Regions from separate parts of the Homo sapiens genome. Here all the other regions are reported to be linked to region 2. The links are microRNA targets in miRTarBase. Many come from high-throughput screens and were not tested one by one. Region 2 holds a microRNA gene; each other region holds the end of a gene's coding sequence.

Region 1 (5,102 bases), not on the chromosome of region 2:
GGCCAGGCCCGGCGGGGCGCCAGAGGGCGGCTGGCAGGCTGGTGGGCTCCCTGCTAAAGGCTGGGGAGGACCACGGTCTATAGGTGCTCCTCAGACTTGTCGGTTCTGTTCTCCCCTGGGGGACCAGGCCTGGCCATGAATCAGCCCCAGGAAGGTTCTAATGGCAAGGAGTCCCCCAGAAGCGCTGGTCTGATGAATGCCGTAGGCACAGTGCACACCTACCAGCCCTGCCTGGAGTTCAGCATGTCTGGGCCGGTGCACCCTGGGCCCTGGACTCAGTCTGGCCTGCCCAGAGCAGCTCTGCAGGTGTCTCTTCCCACTGCCCAGCACAGACAGGGATGGGACATTAGTTTCCCTTCAAGTTTAGCGGTTTTCACACAAAACCACACCACCACTCAATTTAGCCCTCACAGAGTACCCCCTACCTGCGTGTCACCTGGAGGGGATACTTTGATACAAGTGTGGCCATAGAGCAGCAGGACTGATTTCCTCTAGAGTCAAGACCAGCTGCCTCATGGACACAAACTGCATCTTAGCGTCCCTAGATTCTGCTCAACCAGGCACCCGGCAGAGGGCAGGGACTCAGGAAACACGTGGCCCCACCTAGCACCTCCTCCACTGTCAGGCCCAAGGAGGCCCCAGGTGCCCTCAGTTTCTGGTTGGCGGATGAGATGCCTTGAAGGATGAGCACCACAGCCAACCCCATGACAGGCAAGCAGACTCACCTGGCGGTCACACCACCTCCTAGCTTGGCTTTCAGGTGTGGCATTTTTGGTGACTCCTCACCCACCTCACCCTCAACCTCAACCACATTTAAAGAGCCATAGTTGAGCAGCACTGGGCGTTGGGACTTTATCAGGCTGGCTCTATAGCCAAAAGGGTGTCAGGATTTGGGCAGATTAAGAAGGGCAGAGTCATTTTTATGGGTAAGGAGGTGGCTGGAAGGGTGCGTCTTTGCCCTCAGCAGTGTGTACCCACTCGTTGGAGAGGCAGAGCAGAACAGACGGGCCTAAACTGCCTGTCCTATCCCTATCACCCTCTTTCCTCCCAGAGAAGGAACTGAAGTTTCTTCGGCAAGAGAACCGGAAGAACATGCTGCTCTCTGTGGCCATCTTTATCCTCCTGACGCTCGTCTATGCCTACTGGACCATGTGAGCCTGGCACTTCCCCACAACCAGCACAGGCTTCCACTTGGCCCCTTGATCAGGATCAAGCAGGCACTTCAAGCCTCAATAGGACCAAGGTGCTGGGGTGTTCCCCTCCCAACCTAGTGTTCAAGCATGGCTTCCTGGCGGCCCAGGCCTTGCCTCCCTGGCCTGCTGGGGGGTTCCGGGTCTCCAGAAGGACATGGTGCTGGTCCCTCCCTTAGCCCAAGGGAGAGGCAATAAAGAACACAAAGCTGTTCCCGTCTGCTGAGTAAATGTCATGGTCTGACTAGCGGAGGGTGGACGGTGGGGGCAGGAAGAGGCAGCAGCAGCAGAGGCGGCACTCAGGAATCAAGGAAGAAGAGATGTTCAAGGGAAAGCTCTGGATTACAATTCAGAATAGAGGAGAAGGCCCCCAGCTCGAGTGGGAAGGAGACAGTGGGAAGCACTTTCCAAGCCAAATAGTGGGAGTTACTTCCAGGGCTCGGGCACTGCTGGGGTTGAGCAGCAGACATTGTGCCACCTGTCCATCCCCCCACCACACACTGTCATGCCCTCCAGTCAGTGCCATTGCTTGTAATTATGGCAGAAAAAAATGCAGTCTGTGCAGCGAAGGGCGGCTTGGGGACTTGAAGTGGTCATGTGGCGATCCCAGGGGAGTGCGGAGTTAATCCATCTTCGACAGGCAGGCAAGGCTGGGGAGGCTGTGAGTGGGCAGGAAGAGTCATGGTAATGACCAGACAGACTTACGGTGACAGTGGCCAGTAAATCAGGTAGGGTTTGTAGTGAGAAGTAGGGGTGGGGCTGATCAGAGGGGGAGTTGTGGCAGGAGCAGCAAACTCAGACATCTCCCTTACCCTTCCACCCCCCAACTCTAAAACTCCTAGCTTTGGAATAAGGAGGGGAGCAGGTGGGAGGCTACAGCAAGGCAGAACAGAGGAAGGGCGTGGATGGCCGAGATGAAACCAGTTAAGTAGGAAAAACAAGGGATGGGGTTGCCCAGGGAACTAAGGCCATACACAAAGGACTCTTGGGGCCAAAGTGAGGAAGTCCAGCAAAGTGAAGGCGGACTTTGGGGGGCAACCAGCACCAGGGCGATGACTAACTGGTGGAGAAACCAGCCGGGAACAGAGAGGGAGGTGCCTGCAGCATCTGCATCCCCCACCCCCAAGCACAGTCCCGTGCAGGCAGAACCAGCCCTCCTTGGAGGGGAGGCAGGCTAGGGTCAGTGAAACCATCTATCTCTCCCTCCCTCTTTCGCCCAAGTCTAGTGACACTAATTGGTCTGACGCCTCTGTTATTTTAGTCACACAGACTGATCCTGGATTGTCACAGTGCCACCATGGAGTGAGCTGTGTGATTTATGTAAGGGGGGAAGGTGCCTCTCTGCCCTTCCGGGGCTGTGGGTTCATTCATTCTGCAGTCCCTGCTTGTAACAGGAGCTGCACAATTTCCCCCAACTCTTCTTTGAGCCCCCTCTTGAGCAGCAAGCAGCAGCCCTGGGAGCCCTGCAGGTGCCCAAGAGCTTGAACAGGCTCCGATTAAACAAACCCTCTTTTCTCTCCTCTGCTTTGAGTAGAGCTGCTTCCCCTTCACCTCTGGCTCAAGCTGTTTCATCCAAGCCAGTCTCAGATCACAAAGCACTGAGGACAAACAGCAGCAGCCCCAACACAGAGCCACACAGGCATTAAAAATATGTTTATCTTTAATGATCCAAGATTCTGCAAGACACACTGATATACCCAGAATTGGGTGGAAATACAGCATCTCAGCAGTGCTACTGCCAGCCTGGGGGTGGGGAGCTGGATGCTGGCTGAAGGACCCCCATGGTGAAGTCGATTCCAACCTCACGGGAGCCTCAGTGCCCTATCTCCATGGAAACCAGCCTGGCACTGGGATGGGGCCCTAGGGAGCCTGCATGAACATCTCTGAGAGGTATTTCCCATTAAAAACAACCACAGGTGCCCACCCCCACCCCAAGCTACTGCCCAGCTCCCCCTCCTCTCTGTGTTGTCGGCCAAGATAAAGGAAATGGGAGTGACCACTTAACGACAAACAAAAGCAGATTGTACCTCCTATTAGGGAAGAAAAAGGAAGGGAAAGGGTAGTAAGGGAGCTGCACTTCAAGCTCAGAATTCTGCCAAGACCCTAGAGCGGCTATGGCAGACAGCGGTGCATGACTGCCAGAGGGCAGCGCTACCCAAACCCCTGGAGGTACCCTTTGTTACTGCTGGGGCCCCTGCTGCTGTGGGGGAAAGACGGGTCTTCAAGGCTGCTTCCTGCCATCTAGCGCTGCCCAATGTTTGGACCAAAAGGGGATGGCACCTAGGATGGCTCTACAACTCCATACTCAGTACGAAAAGAGGGCTCCCAGGATCTCAATGTGGTATCAGGGATGAGAGTTTGCCCAAACTCCCTCCTTCCCACCCTGCTGGACTGTCAGAGCTCTGGGCTAGGAAGAACTCCAGGGAAGGCCAGGATGAGTGGGGGAAGGAGACAAGAAAATGGTCTCCAATTTGGCATCAAAACAGAGTAAGTTCAAAGAAACAAAACCTTGATTTTTTTATAGCAGGTTCTCCTGGCCAGCTCATGACAGCAGGTCTCCACCCACTCAGGGATGGCCCAATAAAAAGTTGGGCAAAGCAAGGGCATGGCTACCCTCAGGGCAGTGCATGGAACTCAGAAAAGTGAGTCTACAGGATGCAGGAGAGAACAGCAGAGCCCACAGCTCTGCCACTCTGATATGTCCTCCATCAGTCCCACGTGCCCTAGGCACTGACCTCATACCTGCCTCAGGAGCAGCTTCCTTCAGGCTGAGTCCTGGCAGGGGAAAGTTCCCAGGCAGGTGTCCCAGAAGGAACATGAGTGTTCTCTGCAGGGCCCTGCCTGAGCTCTTCAGGGGATGGAGAGGAGGCCACCCACTCCTCATGCCAGGTGCAATGCTCCCCAGTCCCTTTTCAAGAGGGGGAAGAAGCCAGCACTGTGGGCCCCAGGTGGCCCCATCTCAGGAATGACAGGGCATTCTGCAGGGGTGGCACATTCTGAGGCTCTTAGGCCCTGTGCATCTGGATGAAGGAGAGGACGTCCTCCTTGGACAGCTTGTCCTGGTCCTGGGGCTTCTGGGAGTCATGCACACGAATGCCATCCCCCCACTCCCAGAAGAGCCGGCCATAGTAGCAAATGCTGGGGAGGAGAGGGATGGGAAAGAGGTCAGGACTGCACCCAGATGGCACAGGGTCATGTGTTCTTAAGGGTGTGGGGCGGAGGGGTCTGTCAATGACTTTAGTTGAGGTTCTTCCCCCGGCAGGCAAAAGGTACCCGGTAGGCCCTAACTCCCCTGCCTCCCAGAACCAACTTTTCCCAACAAACAGCTGTTGCTGCTAATTGCATCCAACTGGATTCCTACAGTGACTGATATTCCTGACTTATCTGTCTGTGCTTCTCTAATATACAGTATTAGTAGTGTGGTGACAGAAAATGTCAGTGGCTAATTACAGGCACATTAGGGCTGCTGGGGAAGCCTATGACCAACAGTCTGACTAATGGACACCGGGTCCTAATGAGGGACAGCTGGGACCTTGAGTGCCAAGGGGCAGGGCTGTGGGCCCTCAGCAGGTTCCCACCATCAGGCCAGTGTTGGAATGTCACCGAAACGTGGCTGCTCCATGGGGTGGATACGCTGCCCAGATGGGCCTTCACAGCCAGGCCCGTAACCATTAGCAGGTCCAGGCATCGTGCTTCCCTCACCAGCTCTACCCAGGTCCAGCCACACCTGCAGGGGGCTGCCATCCCCACAAGTATTCTCAGGCCTGTGCTCAGGGGAACCCCTGCATGGGCAACAGTCTCAGGACCCAGGGTGTGCCCCCAAGACAGCTGGCTGGCATCCTGCAGGAGTACTTGAGGCTGCTAAGGAGGGCAGGCTTGGAGGAGAGCTACTTACTGAAATGGGGCAATGGA
Region 2 (5,102 bases):
GCCTCACGGAGCTGGAGAAGAGACCAGCAAACACATGCACGGTAACTCAGATGTGTTATGTGTTGTCTTGCTGGCTGGGAGCTACGCCTCCTAGGCCCACCCCAAGTCGAAGGATCGCAGCCCTGGTGCTCGAGAGCAAGGGCTTGGGGCTGGGCTGCAAAAGCTCAGCTTTGCCTCTGAATCTTCTAGAACCACGTTTGCACTCACACAGGACAGATTTGCTCTGAGCCTGTGGGATAGCCTCATCTGTTCCCCTTTGAGCATTTGGAAAGCAAAGTGGGGTTCTGCCCTCGCCAGAGCCCACAGGGTCACCAGGCTATTAAACCCTGCAGAGTCTCTGGGGAGGCTGACTTTGAGAGCCAAATACCCCATCTTCTGGCTGAACTGCTGCAGGCTTCGTCTCGGGAGGAAAGACCCCCAGGCACCTGTCTGGACTTGTCTGGGCACCAGTAGTGGCTCTGAGGCCACATCTGGGCCTCGGCTGGCAGAGGTCTGGGCTGTCTTGGGCACAAATGCCAATGCCAACAGGCCCAGCACTGATCTCACACGATTCCAGCAAGAGAGCCTAGATTTTTGCACATCTCTGAGAAAACTGTCATACCACACCGCACAGCTAACCTTAGGCGCAACCAGCCACTAACTCCTCTCCCTGCCCAGGCGAAGTCCCCTTTGCTGCAGTGGGGCAGCATTTCAGGGACACGGAGAAAGAAGTTTGCTTTGTGGTTCCGTAAACTCAGACGGATGATATAAAATCAGAAACCTTATTTTAAAGCTTGGTAAATATGTGCATATGTCCCCTACAACTGGGGACGCTGGAAAGGCAGCATCTGAACACTGGCTGCTTTGAAAAGAGGTCATGAGAAGGGCAGAAGGGGTCAGCTGGGCATGGGGTGATGGAGGGAACCCCAAGTCCACTCCTAAATTCTTTCAACGTCCATCTCTTTCCCTGAAAAGTCGGCTTGGCTACTAGGCCTGAAAAGTATGTTGTTTATATCATGTTTGTGAGCGTCAGGGTTTATTTTCACCTGCTCCAGATACAAGAAGCAAAAAGAACTCTACATTTTTCTGTGTTTGGGGTGCTCAGGCGAGAAAGAAAATGCCTGCTTAAAGTAACTGATCAGCAATGTTTTGTTTGTACACGCACTTTATTCTGGTGAGTGATTTTAAGTACCAAGTTTGCCTTAACTTTTCACTGCACTCATTTTTATCCTCATGGCTAAAATAGCTGTATTTGCTCCACAATCAAAATTAAAGGAGGGTGAGCTGATCGTTAGGAGGCTATAGTTGATCTGGCAAGAATTTCCATCTTTCTGTTCATAACGTTAAGTTGGGGGGTTGCTGGGAAGGGAAACAGAGAGAGTGTTCCCTTGGAGGGACTTTTCCAACTTTCATTGGTTTGAATCACCAACATATATTTTATTTTTAAGGAAGTATCATATTCATTGCAGAACCACCTCTAAATATTTTACTCCTGGCCATACCGTATTCTTTTCTATTGAAACATCTTTTTTGCCTCTCTGAGATCAGCTATGGCTTGGGGATTGCTAAGAACAAAATTCAAAGTTGCTTGTTTTTTGTTTTTTTTTTTCTTAAATCCACACTTCTTTGGGGGTTAGCGGGGGTGGGGAGGGAACAGCAACTGCTTAATGAAGTTTCTCACACAGAGGCAAAAAGAGAAAAGCCAAAATATATTCAGTGTATCCAGCAGTTCCATGCTGAATTTTTTTTTTCCTTATTGGTTGAGGGGGGTGTGTAGGAGGGTGGTGGGAAGGATCTGAAAAGAAGCTGTGATTCTTTGCTGAATTAATGATGACTTCTCACTGCAAAATGCTGATTTATAATCTCTTCACCATACTAGACTGTTTCCAGACTCAGAGGGGGGTTAAAGTTTGTTAAATGTATTCATAATTACATGCACAGTTTCAGACGGCTGAATATAAGTAATGCTTGTGCTGTTGCGAATGCTCACCATTAAAGCAGAAATTGTTTCACATTTAGCACTAAATTCTGTCTGATTTTGCACACTTAACAATTCAGTAATTTTAACATTCGGCTTCGTCGCCTCCATTATAGCTCAGTATCTTGGAGAAACAGTCAGTGTTCCGGCCTCGTTAATTCATGTAAAACACCCTATTTGTAGAAGTATCATTAAAGGCTAATTTGATGAGATATCCTTATTTAGCAAAGCAAATAGGATTTGACAGTCAGCTCCGGGTGGCGATTTAGCAAAGCACAAACACAATTCACAACGTGACAATTTCCCATCCACGCGCCTCGCTGGAATTGTGGACTCCTGAAAATTGTGCTGTTTCATCGTGTCCCATACTAAAGAGAAAGAACTCTGGAAGTAAAGAACTGTTTTTGCCAAGGCAGCACAAATGTCATCTGTGTGTACATGTGCCATGTCTTTCAAATCCTAAATCTTGTATCAAGAACGCTGTGTTCAAAGGTTTTTTCCAGGTACAGCTCACTTTTCTATTCCCTGCTATGTAGACTTAATTTAAATCTAGACTTGCAAATAACTTAGGATGTGTGAAAGTCTATATAGGTTACAACTATATAGGGTGTGTGTGTGTGTGTGTGTACACACAACTGAAGGTTAATGTTCTGCGACGGGGATTTATACACACTACCCTTGCTTTAGAGACTTCCCCTGAACGTATTATCCAGCCTTCTATAAAACGCCTGGCTGGGTGCAGTGGCTCATGCCTGTAATCCCAGCACTTTGGGAGGCTGAGGTGGGCGGATCACGAGGTCAGGAGATCGAGACCATCCTGGCTAACACGGTGAAACCCCGTCTCTACTAAAAATACAAAAAAATTAGCCGGGCGTGGTGGCGGGCGCCTGTAATCCCAGCTACTCGGGAGGCTGAGGCAGGAGAATCGCCTGAACCCGGGAAGCAGAGGTTGCAGTGAGCCAAGATCGCGCCACTGCACTCCAGCCTGGTCAGAGCCTGGACAGAGCGAGATTCTGTCCCCAAAAAACAAACAAACAAACAAACAAAACAAAACAGAACAAAAAGAACGCCTTCAACAGCAAAGAGTTGCAAAGAAATGTTGCAATTCCAGGTGGAAGCAAACAGCTGGTTTCTCCTAATTTAGCAAACGTAAAGACAAATCTAATGTCGTTACAATTCATCATTTCAGGAGCGCCTTATTTGGGGGCTTCAAACACTTTGCCACAATTGACATCCTACTAATTCCTTTCCAATCCAATACTGTCCCTTAAACCACTGTGGGGGTGGTCAGGGGGAATGTACTTTCTCCTCCTTGTATCGTTTTTCGGCCTCCCAAGGAGAGAAGCCCTTGGAAAACACAGTAGGTTCGGCAAACTGAGAACACACACTTATAAGAATACCGCCCTCGAAGGGACCTTTTAGTTTTATGGAAAGTAGCAAACCTCCCCCTCTTTCCCCGCCCCCCCGCCAGCCGGGTTTTGGACGCGCTCCCTGGGGGTGGTAGCTCTCTGCCCTCACCCTCCCGAGACTGCCGGGGCCTGAGTCCCTCGCTGTCCAGAATGACCCCAAAAGCGGGACTTTGAGGGCCAGTTGGATAAAACATAAACTCATCTCGCCCTCAAAACCCCGATTCTGAGACCACAGCCTCCAAAAGCCTCTTTTCCCAAGAAGTGAGTCCCCATTCACGGCTGACAGCACCGGGGCAGGCCGCCTTTGAGGCAAGAGTTTGGAGAACCGGGATCACTGAAGGAATCGTTACTGGGTGTTCCCTCAGGGCGGCGGTTCATCTCACCAAAATGCCAGGGGGTCGCTGTGGGAGGAGGGGACATTTGCCACACCATGGCTGAGGGCAAGAGGATCGCTTGATCCCGGGGTGTCTCTTCCCTCCCGGAGCAATCACCAATCTCGCCCAGCAAACAGGCCTAAAAGCTTCCCGGACAACACGAGGGGTGCCCCAAACGTCCCTTAGCAGCGGATAAATCGGGTGTCCGAGGTGCCTCGTACAGTTCCCCCCACCCCATCTCCAGCTAAATAAAGTTTGGTTATTTGTGTCCTTAATCGTCTCTCATTAAAGTCAAATTTGCTGCGCGCCCAAGTTGGGGGAAATGATTTCCATTTTAATAGCTTAATTAGCCTCTAGGTTCTGGAAAGGCCACTCCCCCACGCACCTTTTCTCCTCATTTTAACCCCCCTCCCTTTTTCACAACTTCTCCTAAAAATAAATTATAAATATGGATGTGTCCTCAGAGGACATAAGCGGCGCATTCCAACGCTCCGCTTGGTGGGGATTGGAAGCAAAGAGAAACCAGAAACGCCACTCCCCCCACCCCCAAATCAAAATGCCTTTTTCTTTTTTTTTCTAACTTCTTTTTCCTAACTTGGTGTTGTCTCGGGCACAGACACCCCGCTCCGCACCCCGGAACCTAGTTTTTTTGCCCCCGTCCTGCAGAAGCTAAAGCCAACGCGCCAGGGCTGCCTGCTTCTCGGGGGGAGGGAGCTGACAACTTTAGGGGGCGGCGGTAACTCTCTGGGGACGGTGGTTCCCGGCTAGTCCGGGATCCCCGGGGCCCGGCCCCCGCAGGCGCCGCCGCCCATGCCAGCGGGGCTCGGGCGCACGTGGAGCGGCGGGCGCGGCCGGCCTGCTCCGCGCGCGGCATTGAGATCGGGGTCACGCAGCGAGTCAGTTTCCCGAGCGGGCTTTCCGGGGTGGGGGCGGGGACGCGGACGCTCCACCGCCTCGTCAATTTCCAAGCCCAGGCACTAGGGAGGCTGGGGGCGGCCTCGCCCCCTTCCTACCTCCCGGCTTCACACGCCCCTCTGGGGAGCGGGGGAGGGGTCCGAGGGGGAGCCGGGGTGGCGGCAGCGGCGGCAATCGCAGCCCAGACAAGCGTCTCGCGCCGAGTCCCGAGAGAACCGCGCGCTCCCCCGCCGCCACCTCCCCTCTCCCGTTCCCATCCACCCCGCAGACAGCCGCCCCACACCCCTTCGGCCCTGGGGGCTTGGGCACCCACCTGCCGCGATCCCTGCCTTGGCTGGCGGAAGGTGCCAGGCGGGAAGAAGGGGAGCACTCACCGCCGCTGCCGCCTCCGGGGGTGCACGGGCCCCCCCACCCAGGGCTGCGCCTTCCCGGGCTCCGGGCAGGCGT
Region 3 (5,102 bases), not on the chromosome of region 2:
CCATATCTCTTTGGTCTTCCACATTCCCAAATTCAGTTGCTGCTGTTTTTGGTCTTCTCTGAGCTGTCTTCTTCTGAACAAAATGTTTTATAGGTTGACTCTCAAACTTTCTCTTACTTGCCTTTTGGACCAAATTAGATTCAAGACCCTTATTGCTAGCCCCCTCCTCCCACTTGTGTCCTCAGATCAGAAGGAGCTGGGTCAGTGAATAAGAATGGGAAAGTACCCCAGTCAGCAAAGGTTCAGATATGTCACCAACCAAACGCAGTCCCTCTTGTTTTTGCTTTGAAGGTTGAATAGTCAGTCTTGGCTCTTATATTTAGCTTAATCACCAGTAAAACACCTTCATGATGAATGTATATAAGTTCACTAGGATTTCAAGCAACTATTTTCCAGGTATCTAGGACCCTCTTATATGATGTATCAGATAACTTGGGCCTACTTCAGTCTGGAGTTGGTTTTGTTCCCATGAGTTTCTTATGTGAATGTTTTGCTCTAATTCTGGCTCTCATAAAAAATCATCTCCCCTGAAGGGGAGACCCGGTGGTAGGAAATCCCAAGCACACCTTTTCTCCAGAACTATCAAGGGTCAGAATAGCCAAGAGTCATCAGTCACTTCCCCTGCTGACCCTCTGGGGAAATGCTACTAAGAAAACAGGGCCAGAAGGCAGAAGCTTAGCCACCAGAGGCCAACTCTAACAGACTGATGGTCCTTTACTTTGCCCATACTTTATAGCTATTTCAGGAAATAGTAAAGCATTCTAGTTAATAGATGAGATCTGGAACCAGCTAGTTTGGTTCTGAACTCTGGATTCACCGCTTACTTGCTGAGTGACTAGTGACCTTGGGCAACTTGTATAACCTTTCTGTGCTTCAATTTCCTTATCTGTGAAAGGGAATTGTAATGGCACCTACCTCGTAAGATTGTTGTGAGGATTCAACGAGATAATGTATTCAAAAGATATACAGCACTACACAGGAAAGAGTAAGTACTCAAGCTATTATTGTGTCTCTAGGAACCGGAGTTTATTGAAGGAGGAAGACCCTGCTGTGCTTATCTCTGAGGTCCTAAGGAGGAAGTTTGCTCTAAAGGAAGAAGATATCAGTAGAAAAGGAAATTGACAACCCTCAGCTCTGCAAACTCAGTCTCATGCTCCTGGAATACCTTCAATAGCTGCCTTCCTCACCGCAGATGTTTCTGCCTCTTAAGGATAGATCTTCTGCAACAGTCTTGCTGACAAGCTAGAGCTTGGACTGAAAGAGAAGAGCTGGATTATATATTTCCCAGACTTCAAACCCTAGCAGAAGCTAAGGCTTGTGATTTGACCTGAGACATTTGTTTCAGGTAATCGTGTAGAATGAAGTATCTTAGTTTAAAGGGTAAGAGAGAAGTTGTTTCTGGTTTTTCCTTGCCCCTGTGTGAAAATAGGTCCTAAATGACTGACTTCACTGCATTAGACCCTATAGCTGGTCTCACAAGACACTTTGTGCCCAGCTGTCACTCACTCAGCAGCTTCCTTGCAGCAGAGCAGGGCTGAGGGGAAGGGGCTATGAATGTTTGTATACATGTTCACAGGGCACGGAAAATCTTATGCTGCTCCGTCATAAACCTACACCAATGCCCAGCAATCACCCTCCTCACTTCCTTGTCTAGATGTAGAGGTCAGGCTGCTGAACCAGCCAACACATGGGCTACTGCTGGGAAGCCTGGGCTGTTTTTTTTCTTAAACACATTTTATATTACTGAACAACCAAATCTACCCTCCACGGCCCTGAGGCCTTATCAGTTCCACTGATTAAAAACTTTCTCTTCCACGGACTTTAAGCCCGGTAGGAAAGAGAGAGGAGGAGGGGGAAAGAGCAAACCATCTTTCTTCCAGGCCCTTGACTGCTCCTTTGGGCTGGGCCAAGGTTTGTATGTACCACACCATGCATGACTCAGATGCCCTCAGGTCCCTTTCTCTATGGTATGTATACTGCTTGTGTTTGGGTTGAAGCACTACCTGACATTAAAGGAAGGACTTGGAGAGAGAATGCATTTGCTGTGTCCATCTCTTGAGTTGCGATTACCCAGTATCCTTCAGGGGCATAGGATTATTGTTAATTTTAAGGTGTATGAACTTAAACAGGCTACTGGCTTCTCCTCTTTCCTTATAAGGTCCTGCCCTTCTAGGGGGTTTCTTCCCCCTTTCTGTAGAGATTTTGCCCTATACTCTTTTTCTTTTTTTTAGAAACAGTATCTAGCTCTGTCATGCCGGAGTGCAGTGGTGGGATCATTAGCTAACTGCAGCCTCCAAACTCCTGGGCTCAAGTGAGCCTCCCACCTTAGCCTCCTGAGTAGCTGGGACTACAGGTATGCACCACCACACCCAGGAAATTTTTAAATTTTTTTGTAGCGATGGGGTCTTGCTATGTTGCCCAGGCTGGTCTTAAACTCCTGGTCTCAAGCAAACCTCCCACCTCAGCCTCCCAGAGCGTTGAGATTACAGACATGAGCCACCGCACTAAGCCCCATACATTCTTAAAAGCAGGTCTTCCAGGAAAATGACTGGAGAGATGACATACACGATAAAAGTAGAATTTAACATTTAAATTAGGCCAGGCACAGTGGCTCACACCTCTAATCACAGCACTTTGGGAGTTCAAGATCAGCCTGGGCAACAAAGCAAGACCTCATCTCTACAAAATATTTTAAAAATAATTAGCTGGGCATGGTGGCATGTGCCTATAGTTCAGCTACTCGGGAGGCTGAGGTGGGAGAATCACTTGCGCCCAGGAGGTCCAGGCTGCAGTGAACCGTGTTCATGCCACCACACTCCAGCCTGGGCAAGAGAGCGAGACCGTGTCTCAAAAAAATAAAATTTAAGTTAAAAAAAAAAAAAGAAGCAGTTCTCTTATAACCTTGCAAGTTTGTCCCTTAGAGGTTGTTTAAGCCTCTTAGATACCACATCAACAACAAGGAATAATGCCTTGGGTAGAAGACAGGTCAAACTAGACTCTGGTTCAGATCAGGCTCAGGGCAATGACAGCATATACTATTACAGTGTTGCCTTTTCAAAAATAAAATTGGTAATGGTTTAATTACCAATTATCACAAGAGCCACTTTGTAAACATTTATTTGGATTCATAGTTTTACAAAGGGGATTCCCTCCTATCTTGTGGGAAAAGGGTAACAGAGTCACATCCAGATTGTTGTACAGCTCAGGCTTTTTAAGGGAGATATTTAAACATAGAGTATATAACTTTAAAGTGCTGTACAGTTACCACAAAAATAAAATAGGAAACTAGCACCATTCTACCTCTCTTCTCTCCACACCTGGGTTGTGGGGAGATTTGCTAATCACTGAAAAAAAAGGGTCAAGAGTAATCATCCCAAGCTTAGGCTGATGTGGGTTAAGATCAGCCAGAGATTAAAAGCTCACACATCTGGCTGGGCGCGGTGGCTTATGCCTGTAATCTCAGCACTTTGGGAGGCTGAGGTGGGCGGATCAGGAGGTCAGGAGATGGAGACCATCCTGGCTAATATGGTGAAACCTCGTCTCTACTAAAAATCCAAAAAAAATTAGCTGGGCGTGGTGGCGCATGCCTGTAGTCCCTGCTATTCGGGAGGCTGAGGCAGGAGAATCGCTTGAATCCGGGAGACAGAGGGTGCAGTGAGCTGAGGTCGCACCACTGCACTCCAGCCTGGCAACAGAGCGAGACTCCATCTCAAAAAAAAAAAAAAAAAAACACATCCATAAGCAAGGTCCCAGTCAGACATCTGGAAGGGCAAAGAGATGGCTCTGTGCAGGCTGAGTAAAAGGCACTTTCATAGAGATAAATACCCACTGTGCTGCCTCAGTGTTCATCATAGACTCATTCAGGGAATTTACCAGCCACCACCTTCCTGAGGGAAAGCCATGATGCCAATCCCACTGTCTTAACAATGGTACTGCCCTTTATTTACACAGAGAAGATGCTCAGTAATGACAACTTCATCCCATGCCACCTTCCCACCTAAACAAACTCACTCCTCTCTCCACCCACAACTATATTTTCCTACATCTCTATCATTTCAAGGTACTTTTAGAAACAAAGCTTCAAACATTTAGAATTGGTGTCTGATAACTTGATTACCTTCAGAGTCCTGGGTAAAGAGCAAATCAGGCTTCAGATTTTGAGTTGGCCCATCCTCCTGGCACTGAGCCCAAGGACTGTTAGGAAACGGCCCTAAGTCCCAATTCCAGTTATTGGTTACATCTTGAAAAGGAGCTCTAGTGTTGTGGGCAATGACCCGCTGGCCTTGAGAATCTTCAGTGAAAAGTTGACTCCAGGAGTCCTTGTCATTCTTTTCATTGTCCCAGGAAAACACAGAAACTGGACTACGGCTTTGTTTCACTGATTCTATGTTTTCTCCATTCCAGGATTCCCTGTATGTTTGAAGGAGGACAGGGGCCTGCCTGTTTTCTTTGGCAGACACCTTTCTTTCCAATTTAGTCTTGCCTAAGGGCTGACAGCATTTGTCCCCAGGTAGTTTGGTGTGTTTCTCCATACTCTGATAGTTCTTCTTAGACTCATGAAGCCATTCCCATTTCCTGGCAGAATCCCCTTTTTCTTCCTTTCGGTCTAGCAAACAAGAACTTTCCAAGTCCTCGGTGAAGGAAAAAGCCAGTGGGGTATGACTATCTCCAGCACAGTCTGGAGTATCAGGCTGGAGCAAAGATAGCTCAGTTGAAAATGGGGTTTTCATTCTGTGGTGGCCAGAAGTCTGGAGGGACTGAGGAGAGAGTCCAGCTTCCTGGATGTCTGCAGTGGTTGAAGTGGCTAAAGGGGATGCCATGCAATCGTGTGCTAAGCCTGGGATCAAATGGTCTAGCTGGGTCGCATTTTTCTTGGACTCTTTGTTGATCTGACTTTCTGTATGAGATGAAACACTCTTCTGGTCACTGCCATTTGTCTTTCCTAATAAAACAGGAATGAACAAATATTATTCTGCAGAAAAACTGCCCTAAGCAGGATTCAGTTGGCTTTTTCTGAAATCAGTATCAGCTACTATTACTACCTAGTGCAGGAGTCTTAAGACTCTTCACATAACTTTGTAGCCAATCTTCCTGTTTTCAAT
Region 4 (5,102 bases), not on the chromosome of region 2:
GGGTGTGAGATTGTTTTCCAGTATGCTGGGAACATTCTACATCTTCATCAGGGTGGTAACTGCCAGTGGTGTGCTAGAACAGGCTCATACTCACTTATGAGAGCCAACTATTAGATATTCATGAATTTTGCCAGCTGGTTGACTATGACTAGCTTATAATTGGCCATGATAGGAGTTTTTAATGCCGTGGAAATCTACCGATGGTTTTACAAAGTAGCAAAGTTTGGTTGATAAACATTTATCAGCATACTGCTTCTTATTGCTCACCAATCCTTGACCTCTGATTGTAGAAGGAACTTAGAAGATAAAAACCAGGGAGGTAGTAAGGAATGCTCTCATCCACCCTACGCCAAAAAGGGTTGGCCATGAGAAACTATTAATAGCATGCTATTTAGCATGTCTTGGCCAAAGAGTATTGCTTTGTTTACAGCTGCCTAGTATTTGACTTTTCCATGCTGCCTTTAGCCAAAGTAAATTTTCTCTATTTTTTTAATTTATTTATTTTTATTTTATTTTTTTTTTAGACAGAGTCTCACTCTGTTGCCCAGGCTGGAGTGCAGTGGAGTGATCTCGGCTCACTGCAACCTCCACCTCCCAGGTTCAAGCAATTCTTCTGCCTCAGCCTCCCAAGTAGCTGGGACTATAGGCACATGCCACCAGCCCGGCTAACTTTTTGTATTTTTATAGAGATGGGGTTTCACTGTGTTAGCCAGGATGGTCTCGATCTCCTGACCTCGTGATCCGCATGCCTCAGGCTCCCAAAGTGCTGGGATTACAGGTGTGAGCCACTGCGCCTGGCCTCTTTATAACAGCAAACCATAGCCTTTCCGTAGACTCCTTTTGACATGTTGCTGAATTTGTGTCCTATTGATTTTGAGTAGTTCAAGTTCCTACCCTTTTTGTTTCTACTTCTTTAGGAGCATTCCGGAAGAGTTTTTCGACTACAGTTTGATGAATTCCAGATTGTCAGTAGTTCACATGATGACACAATCCTCATCTGGGACTTCCTAAATGATCCAGCTGCCCAAGCTGAACCCCCCCGTTCCCCTTCTCGAACATACACCTACATCTCCAGATAAATAACCATACACTGACCTCATACTTGCCCAGGTATCGAAATCGATTATGTACATAACACTGTGGGTAGGAGACGGGATATTAGCTGTAAGGTGTTGCTAGTTCATGGAACTTTCTCCTGCCGTTTGGGTCACCAACTCCTGTAAAGCCGAGGAAGCAGACAATGTGAGACAGGGCTGAAGCTGCCACAGTGTGGACAGTGCCTTTCACCAAGGTAGCCAGCCTCAGTTCTAGATGATTCTAGGGTCCTACTTGTGTGGTAAGCCTAGTCATTCCTGCCCTAGTTATCTAGTAGTACTGTTATGAAAATAAAATGAGATTTGAATCAGTTTGAAAACTAAGTACTGTAATGACCCAAAGGCCTGTGATGTTTAAGTTCCCAGATCAAACAATACCTACAATAGAGACCTTTCAAGCCAAGTAAACAGTCTGATGTCTAATGTGTGAATGGAAACATCTCTTGGTGAAAGTTCACACTGACATATAAATAAAAGGGCAGATTTTAAAAGGAATATAAAAAGTAGCTTTTATATCCCTATCCCTATTCCTCAACCCTCCAAAAAGAGGACCTGTCTTTTGACCTCTGACCTCCACATGTCCTCCCACTCAAGTCTCCAACCTCTCTCTCAGGCAGGGGAAGATCCTAAAATACCCAGGTGGTCCATACATATTGTGGTATATTCAGATCATACCTGCTGTTCTAACCAGTTCGAATACACTAGGTTGTTACCAGTTTGAGAAGGCTGCCCTAGCTGCTGAGGAGCGTTGCTGTCAGGATTTGCCACGTGTGCCTCAGTTCTCGTGGCGGAAGTACATGTTCGCTACACGTTTCTGCATCTCTCTTTGCAGTGTTCCGCTGAGGACAGTGATTCACGCCCAGCTGGGCTGTCCTCAGCTTCTCTTTCTCTCACAGAGGACACGGTTCGTCGTTCCTCAGCCAGGTCGCACAGGCTGTGTGCCCTTAGACAAGTAACTTCCCAGACCCTGAATCTCTTGATGAGTAACGTGAGGGGCAGCACTCACCTCACGGAACCCTGTGAAGGCTGTGTGGAGATACTGCATGGAAAATTCCTAGTGCTTAGCACAGTGGCGAATACATAATATGCCCTCAGGAAAAACTGGTCATGAGTATTAATATTGCAATCTCCATATACCTACCCCCTCCTTTGCCCAAAATTTTCTCTTCCTTAGACTTCCGTGTTACTTTGCCATTTTTAATATTCTTCCTGACTCTCTGATTATTTGTGCTTCTTTCCCCCTCACTCCCAAGAGTCTGTTTCTGGCTTTTCTTATTATTTTTATTTTATTTTATTTTATTTCATTTTATTTTATTTTATTTTATTTCTTGAAACAGGGCTTCACTCCTGTCACCCAAGCTGGAGTGCAGTGGCACAATGTCAGCTCATTGCAACCTCCACCTCCTGGGCTCAAGTGATTCTCCTGCCTCAGCCTCCTGAGTACCGCGGGCACACAACACCATGACCAGCTAATTGTTTGTATTTTTTTTTTTTTTTTGGAGAGATGGAGTTTCACCATGTTGCCCAGGCTGGTCTCGAACTCCTGAGCTCAAGTGATCCACCTCCCTTGGCCTCCCAAAGTTACTGGGATTACAGGTGTGAGCCACCGCACCCGGCCTGTCTCTGGCTTTTCTTCCTTATCTGAGTTCCTTCTTAGGCTGCCTTCTCTATTCCCAAGGCTTCAGATCTCATCTCATTGTAGAAGACTCAAATTTCTGTCTCCAGTCCAAGCCTCTGCCTTAATCTCCAGGCCACATTTCCAGCTGCCATCCACACAGCTGTCCTTGAAGATAGCAAGAGCACTTCTAGTGCTCACATCCTCAACTGCACTGTCCCCTCCTTTACACTGCTGGTACCCTGCAGCCACACAGCCAGGCCAGCTTTCCTTGATTCCCCCACTTCTGTTACTGGCACCGCCATGCTCATGGCCACTCAAAAGGCAGGGCCCACAGACCATCCCCCACCCCTGCCCTGCCATTCTACAGGGCAAGTGAAAGCTATGCCAACCGTGGGCACTCTCAGCCTCAAGACATCAGAGTCACTCTGCTTGAACACCACAGCCCTGAGCATGTCAGCAAGCCCTGCCTTTAGTATAACTTCCCCCATCAGGCCAGGTCACCTTTGACAGAAGCTCCTGCATGGCATAGGCAGAGAGCAGGCATTAGGAAGGACCCCTAAGCCTTTTCCCCATTGGCAGCTAAGTGAATGTTCTTTTGTCTTCAAGCAAGTAAGAAATATCAAAAAAGGGGCTAATGACTATTTGCTCTGTTTTCACACAGGACCCATTAAAGTTGCGGTATTTAACGTATCTGCCAATACCAGGATGAGCAACAACAGTAACAATCAAACTACTGCCCAGTTTCCCTGGACTAGCCGAGGAGCAGGGCTTTGAGACTCCTGTTGGGACACAGTTGGTCTGCAGTCGGCCCAGGACGGTCTACTCAGCACAACTGACTGCTTCAGTGCTGCTATCAGAAGATGTCTTCTATCTTTTGTGAATGATTGGAACTTTTAAACCTCCCCTCCTCTCCTCCTTTCACCTCTGCACCTAGTTTTTTCCCATTGGTTCCAGACAAAGGTGACTTATAAATATATTTAGTGTTTTGCCAGAATCTCTCTTGCTTTGCCATTAAGCAGAAGAACTAGTTTCCCTGTATAGCCTGCTGGGAGAGACCCACTTCTAGGGTATGGGGGATGCAGCTTCAAGCCCAGTGCCCAGTGTCTCCCTGTTAACTGCAGGAATGCCAAGCACCTGGCCAGAGCAGCCCAGCCCCAATATGCTTAGGAGGAGACAGAGTTCCCTCTGTATAGCCTCTGGGACAAGAAAAAGAAAACACAAGAATGTATACACTGGAAGATTTGGGCCTCCTGCCTGCCTTCTCTTTGTTTCTGTTCCTCTTCCCATCTACTCCCCTACGCCCCTTCAACCTTTTTTCTCTGTCTGCTTCACCTGAGAAGAAAGTGTACGAAGAGAGTGTCCTCCTCTCACATGAGCCAGATCAGCCAGAAAATGCAACACTTGGAAGAGTTAAATGCTGTTCAGTGAAGATTTCAGCCCCAGGCCTTTGCTGCAAGTGACCCTGTGGCAACAGTGGATTCTCAGACATGATACTCTCATCATATTTGCAACTCTTCTCTCTCTTTCTTCCCCACACCCAAGAGGAGGATTGGTGGTAGGGGGCAGGCAGAGGGGGTGGGGAGAAGTTTCCTGGGCTCCATCAATGGCTGCATCTTTTCTGGACTCAGCAGTCTCCTTGATTCCATGTAGAGTGTGGAAAGGAGTTGCTGATTGCATTTCCTCTCATTAACAATTGGGTGTGTAATAAAAAGCATTGTACTTCATCTTAAATCACTGGTAAGGCTCAGCCTACAGAAAGATTTGAAATGGCCAGAGCCAATCGCTTGGTGCATTCTGCGTAATGGTTTCCATCTCCGATTTCCTCATCAGGGCCTGTGAATACCCAGGTGCCTGTATCTTTGCCAAGACCGTGATCAAGGTAGCTTAAGAGAGATGGTCAGGAGAAAACACTGTTTTTGTTTTTTTTGTTGTTTTGTTTTGTTTTGGCCAGTTAAATATCATCTCTCAAATATTGATCTCACCGTGTCAACCTTGCACTGCACAACCTTCCTTCTGCTTCTCCCACACCCAGTATTTGCAGAAGGGCAAAGCTGCTTAAGAGAGAGGATCAGGGTGAAGTTTGGCACACAGGGTTTATTAATGGGGCAAAAACTGCCTTTTCTTCCTCCTCCTGACCTTATTTTGCTCTTCACTCTCCCCAGCCAATAAAGCGTCTGTGGCGATTGGTGAACAGCATAAACAGCTGGACCTCAGCAAGGGTCAGGCAAACCCAGTCACTCGGAAGGCAGCTGTGTGAGCTGCCAAGCTAGTGGGCTTCAGGTGCAAGGGTACCTGTGCCACACCAACCTGGGAGCACACAGAATACTATTAATGTGCACCCAGCTGGTCTCCCCAGGCAAGAAGGTATCCTCTTCCCAAGGTGTACCCAC
Region 5 (5,102 bases), not on the chromosome of region 2:
CCTCCCCGATGAGTCCAGTGAGCCACGGCTGCGGGCTACGGTGTTGTGGTGCTCGGGTGTGTTGGAAGGAAATGGTAATTGAATGAGTGCTCATTTTCCAAGACTTTGGCCCCACCCCTAATATAATGTCCATGTTCCTGGAGCTGAGGATGCCTTCAGCCTAGGCTTGAGGACTCAAGGTGTGTACTAGAACCAGACAGACATTCTCCAATATCCCACTCTAGGGATCTTACTCCAATGAGAAGCAGAGAAATGCTAGCCCCGGGAGAAGACCTAGGAAAAGTGTAACAAGAGGCACCATCTGTCACTGAGCCCCTCTCTCTATGCCAGGCTCCGAGCCAGGTGCTTTACATTATGGGAGCTACTCCTGAACAACTGTGTGAGATACTGGTATCCCTTTACAGATAAGTGGTCAAGTGACTGCCCAAGGGTGTAGTCATTAAGTAGAGGAGTTGCCCTTTAAAACCAGGAGTAATTCCTGAGCGTGTGCAAGCTGGAGATGTGATTCCTGAAGACTGGCTCGCAGAGATGGGTCATGAGGCAGAACCAAGACCTACTCCCCTACTTCCCTGTTCAGTTTGTGTGGCCTCTCCCACTTCTAGTCCCTTCTCTTTCCTGGGAGGGACCCATGGGGGCTAGACAGAGGGCTGTTCCTAGTAGGATAGAGAGGTCCTGCAGCAGCGCCTCTTCCTCACTGCTTATCTTTCTGATCCAGGTTCCCGAGGCATGCCAGCTAGCACCTGACCTACAAGATTCCAGCTGTTTAACTGCCATCACAAAGGCTCATGATGTGTTGACAGTATTTCTGCCTGCTGCTCTGAAAATTCAAGGAAATAAATACCTGACATTTATTGAATGCCAGAAGCTGTTCTAAGAACTTTCTATGTATTATCTATTTTAGTCATTATAATATCCTTATGAAATAGGCACTTTTATCCCCATTTTACAGATGAATAAAATAAGGCACAGAAGGGTTAAGCAACTTTCACAGGTAGAAAGCTGCACAGCCAGGATTTAAGCCCAAGCTCTTAACCACTGCACTACATCAATGCAGCAAAGGCTGAATGAACCAGAGTATTTGATTTACTTAGCTCTTATGCTGGAAAGATGGTGAGGCTTTTGCTCATGGTCTGTATTCAAGCACAAATACCAAAATCAAGGACACCTTTGCATTGGTGCTCCATAGGAGGTTTCCTTTTTTGTTGTTTAGAGAGAAGGTCTTACTCTGTTGCCCTGGCTGGAGTGCAGTGGTGCGATCACAGCTCACTGCAGCCTTGACCTCCAGAGCTCAAGCAATCCTCCACCTCAGCCTCCTGAGTAGCTGGGACTATAGGTGCGCACTTCCACACCCAGCTAATTTTTAATTTTTTTTTTTTTGTAGAGACCGTCTCCCTATATTGCCCAGGTTGGTCTAGAATTCCTAGGGCTCAAGTGATCCTCCCGCCTTGGCCTATTGGGATTACAGATATGAGCCATGGCACCCAACCTCAGAAGAGGCGCTTTTCTTGAGTTCTGGAAGGGGATAGGAATTAATGTTTTGTTTGTTTGTTTGTTTTTTACTCGTCACAGAAAAGGTTCAAAGAGTAAGATAAGCAACGTCTCATAATGCTGTAGTCTAATGGACAAGGGCCCTAGCCATCTGTGCCTGGATGACTCTTCCTCCCAATTTTTAAGTGTCAAAAGATAATTTAGAATCTGGCATTCTGCATTAGAAATCTGAACCAGTGGAGCTGTGTGCTGATTTTCATCAGCTTAAGTTGTCTTTATTGTCAGTGGCTTCCTTTCCCCACAGCAGCTTTATGGAGGCACGTGCCCAGGCATATGAGGAGCTTCTGTCCTTTAGTGTATGTACACCCACAATGCTGCAGAGAAGAGAATCAGCATACTGTTGGGACACAGCAGGTACCACTGCCTTCTGAAGTTTCTAGAGGTGCTATGCCTTCATTGTTTTCCTGCACATGAACATTAACATCCACATCAGGATCTGGAAACCTTTACAGAAGCTGAAGTTTTAAAAAGAAAATGAATGGGATTTTATTCAAGATAAGGAAAGGATAAGAGTGAATCATCAAATGAAACCATGAGGCCACTTCACAAATATTTTATCAAAAAACTCACCTGAGAAAACTCAAAGAATCACAGTAATAAGCTGTCTATGCCATATTTTTTTTTTCCTTTTTTGAAAATGCCAAGAAGCTACTACTAAGAATGTATTCAAGAGACGGAAGTTCCAAGATTCATCACAGGGTCAGGTGGGCTCAACTTAGTTTCCTGGGCCCTCTATAACACTTCATGTTCAGAATTGTCTCCAAATAAAAGCAATTTAAGGGAACATTCAATATGGGTGTCTTTGCTGTGCTTGCAGTCTTAATTCTGTGGACACTGATATTCTATCAATGGAAAATTGAGCCTTTAGTGAACTTGAATACCCTGTTCCCCAATCACTGCCCAGAGAGCAGTTTCTGAGCAGCCAACATGTCAGAGGCAGGAAAACAGCAGCTAAAAGGCAAAGGAGAAAAATGGAAGACACCTGCCTTTACACGTGTATTTTAAGCTAAATAACCATGATAAAATATCACCAACACCCATTTTTTGTAACTTCTTAATTGTCCCACATCAAAGATAAGTATGGACAACTGTAATTGGTTCTTATATATCCCTAAATTCCTAATTGAAATCAATTCCAATAAATCGTTGGTGCTCAGTAGAAAAATGCAAAATTTAAATATATATATTCAGTAGAAGTTACCTTCATAACTTGTGGGGCATTATCAAAATATAATTGGAAACCCCTCTTTGTAACCAACTAACCAAATGATCTTTTCTTAAAGGCACAAATTAAAAGGTGGCAAAACAACCATATATTTAGTGTGTGGGATCACATTCTCCTAAAGAGCATCAGGAAATGTAGGTAGAAGTCAATGTTGTAGCCTAGGTTAGAAGGCCCTGCTTGCTGGGAGTTAACTCTGGTTATTGGATTGTGGGGAGGTGTGGCAGGGAAGGTGGTCAGGGGAACACGGGCACTCCAGAAGCTCGGAGCAGCAGCTCATCAGCTGTGAGGCACCGTCAGCATCCTTGCGTCCTGTGTGGCTGTGAGGCACTGTCAGCATCCTCGCGTCCTGTGCGGCTGTGAGGCACTGTCAGCATCCTCGCGTCCTGTGCGGCTGTGAGGCACTGTCAGCATCCTCGCGTCCTGTGCGGCTGTGAGGCACTGTCAGCATCCTCGCGTCCTGTGCGGCTGTGAGGCACTGTCAGCATCCTCGCGTCCTGTGCGGCTGTGAGGCACCGTCAGCATCCTCGCGTCCTGTGCGGCTGTGAGGCACTGTCAGCATCCTCGCGTCCTGTGCGGCTGTGAGGCACTGTCAGCATCCTCGCGTCCTGTGCGGCTGTGAGGCACTGTCAGCATCCTCGCGTCCTGTGTGGCTGTGAGGCACCGTCAGCATCCTCGCGTCCTGTGCGGCTGTGAGGCACCGTCAGCATCCTCGCGTCCTGTGTGGCTGTGAGGCACCGTCAGCATCCTCGCGTCCTGTGTGGCTGTGAGGCACCGTCAGCATCCTCGGTCCTGTGCGGCTGTGAGGCACCGTCAGCATCCTCGCGTCCTGTGTGGCTGTGAGGCACCGTCAGCATCCTCGGTCCTGTGCGGCTGTGAGGCACCGTCAGCATCCTCGCGTCCTGTGTGGCTGTGAGGCACTGTCAGCATCCTCGCGTCCTGTGTGGCTGTGAGGCACCGTCAGCATCCTCGCGTCCTGTGTGGCTGTGAGGCACCGTCAGCATCCTCGGTCCTGTGCGGCTGTGAGGCACTGTCAGCATCCTCGCATCCTGTGCAGCTGGGCCAGGACAAACTGGCTGAACTGCAGCTCTGCTTGCAGCTTGCTAGAAATACAACTTGGTAACAACAGGAGATTGTGGACACACTATTTTTCGTTAGTTTATTACAAAACTACAGATACAATACACAAAATTCTAATTCCGAAATCCTTCTACATTTTTTTTTTCTGAGACTAAATGCCCTCAAAGCCCGTCTGCTTGGCCTGTATTACAACCTGACTCCTCGGCTCCTGGATGCACAGGTCAGATGTTCCAACAACCCTGACCATGGCCAGTGCTATGGAGTCACTCCAAAGGTGGTTGAGCCCTCTGTGAAAATTTAAATGGCTGCTAAGTCATTCTAAATAAATAGTGAACGGATTGTTTCTGCCCCTAAGATGAAATCCCACAGATCTTATGCTCAAGCTCAGGTCTTCCTACTGCCGCCTTCGACATCTAGAAAGTATGGTGGGATCTTCACTGATTTGTTAACCCTGGGAGTGCCCCTTGTGATCCAGATGAGTCAAAACAAACGGCCAGGATCTCTTCTAAAAAGCCCATGATGGCCCTTCTGGCTGTGTCTCCAGTTGGTGCCTGGATGCTGCCCATGTGTTTAAGGGCCATTCTGACCATCTGGTCTCTTTCCTGTGGGCTGTGGGGTGCTCCAGTGTCATCTCCCTCTGCTCCTGATTTTAAAAACTGTAGAATATAGGACTGGACCATATTCCCACTCAGTTCAAGGGTTTCTTTCATACAAGGGAGGTCCGAGGCACTGGCCAAGCTCAAGAGGTGAATCAGTGCCTGGCAGATTTGGGTCCGTAGGCTGACACAGTACTTGAATTCCAAAAAGTCTATGGTGTCTTCACTCTTCTGTAAAGCGGTGACCAATGCATTCCAGATCCGAGCATACTGGTCAACAGACCCGTACTGCTCTCTCTTCCCCGGGACGGAAAGGGCAGCTGCAGATCTGATGCGCACTTTGAAGTTCTTGCATGATGTCACGACCGATGTCAGGGCATTGTAGGCCTGGGAGGTCCATGGGGCTGTCCCTAGAAAGAATCCACAGTCACTAAAACAAATGCAGGCTTAGAACTAGGTGGGGTGAGAGGGAGAGGGGTGGAAGGAAGCTTAAACACTAGTGCTCAAGACACTCATTTTATGTGTTCACTTCATTCTCACAATCATCCTGTAAGACAAGGGTGGTGACTGACTGTAGGATCCTAGGTAAGTGGCCAGGTGCCAATCCCCAAACCTCCCTCTTTCCCTACCTCAGCCTGCCACACGCTTAGAGCCTC

The links. Region 2 holds the annotated microRNA hsa-miR-193b-3p (AACUGGCCCUCAAAGUCCCGCU, at 3,528-3,549, opposite strand). A microRNA usually pairs through its seed, bases 2 to 8, with sites in the 3' UTR of a target mRNA and lowers its output. Matches are read on the target gene's strand: a 7mer-m8 pairs with bases 2 to 8, a 7mer-A1 pairs with bases 2 to 7 and ends in A, and an 8mer does both.
Region 1: miRTarBase lists CMTR1 as a target of hsa-miR-193b-3p. The part of its 3' UTR that is shown has no 7-base or 8-base seed match.
Region 3: the mRNA of AUNIP is a reported target of hsa-miR-193b-3p. The part of its 3' UTR that is shown has no 7-base or 8-base seed match.
Region 4: the mRNA of BTRC is a reported target of hsa-miR-193b-3p. Seed matches in the 3' UTR shown: 7mer-m8 at 4,658-4,664.
Region 5: the mRNA of HEATR6 is a reported target of hsa-miR-193b-3p. The part of its 3' UTR that is shown has no 7-base or 8-base seed match.

The regions. Positions count from the first base shown.
Region 1 is chr6:37,479,239-37,484,340 of GRCh38, reverse strand. CMTR1 (cap methyltransferase 1) reads right to left here. Exons shown (of 24, transcript NM_015050.3): 23 at 5,086-5,102; 24 at 2,833-4,328. The coding sequence ends at 4,196. It overlaps CCDC167 (coiled-coil domain containing 167), which reads left to right. Exons shown (of 4, transcript NM_138493.3): 4 at 1,052-1,403. The coding sequence ends at 1,155. Among named protein-coding and RNA genes, the nearest start is that of CCDC167, 18 kb to the left of the region's middle. RefSeq lists an enhancer at 3,158-3,858.
Region 2 is chr16:14,302,464-14,307,565 of GRCh38, reverse strand. MIR193B (microRNA 193b) reads right to left here and starts at 3,599; the gene lies at 3,517-3,599. All of the region lies in intron 1 of MIR193BHG (MIR193b-365a host gene), which reads right to left. RefSeq lists enhancers at 1-410, 411-1,096 and silencers at 3,459-3,508, 4,462-4,701, 4,607-4,767, 5,052-5,102.
Region 3 is chr1:25,830,905-25,836,006 of GRCh38, forward strand. It overlaps AUNIP (aurora kinase A and ninein interacting protein), which reads right to left. Exons shown (of 3, transcript NM_024037.3): 3 at 3,102-4,942. The coding sequence ends at 4,089. It overlaps MTFR1L (mitochondrial fission regulator 1 like), which reads left to right. Exons shown (of 7, transcript NM_001099625.2): 7 at 1,017-2,034. The coding sequence ends at 1,122. Among named protein-coding and RNA genes, the nearest start is that of MTFR1L, 14 kb to the left of the region's middle.
Region 4 is chr10:101,549,782-101,554,883 of GRCh38, forward strand. BTRC (beta-transducin repeat containing E3 ubiquitin protein ligase) reads left to right here. Exons shown (of 15, transcript NM_033637.4): 14 at 918-1,110; 15 at 3,374-5,102. The coding sequence ends at 1,079. Among named protein-coding and RNA genes, the nearest start is that of POLL, 36 kb to the right of the region's middle.
Region 5 is chr17:60,039,279-60,044,380 of GRCh38, forward strand. It overlaps HEATR6 (HEAT repeat containing 6), which reads right to left. Exons shown (of 20, transcript NM_022070.5): 20 at 1,730-4,856. The coding sequence ends at 4,285. MIR4737 (microRNA 4737) reads right to left here and starts at 3,827; the gene lies at 3,747-3,827. RefSeq lists an enhancer at 590-884.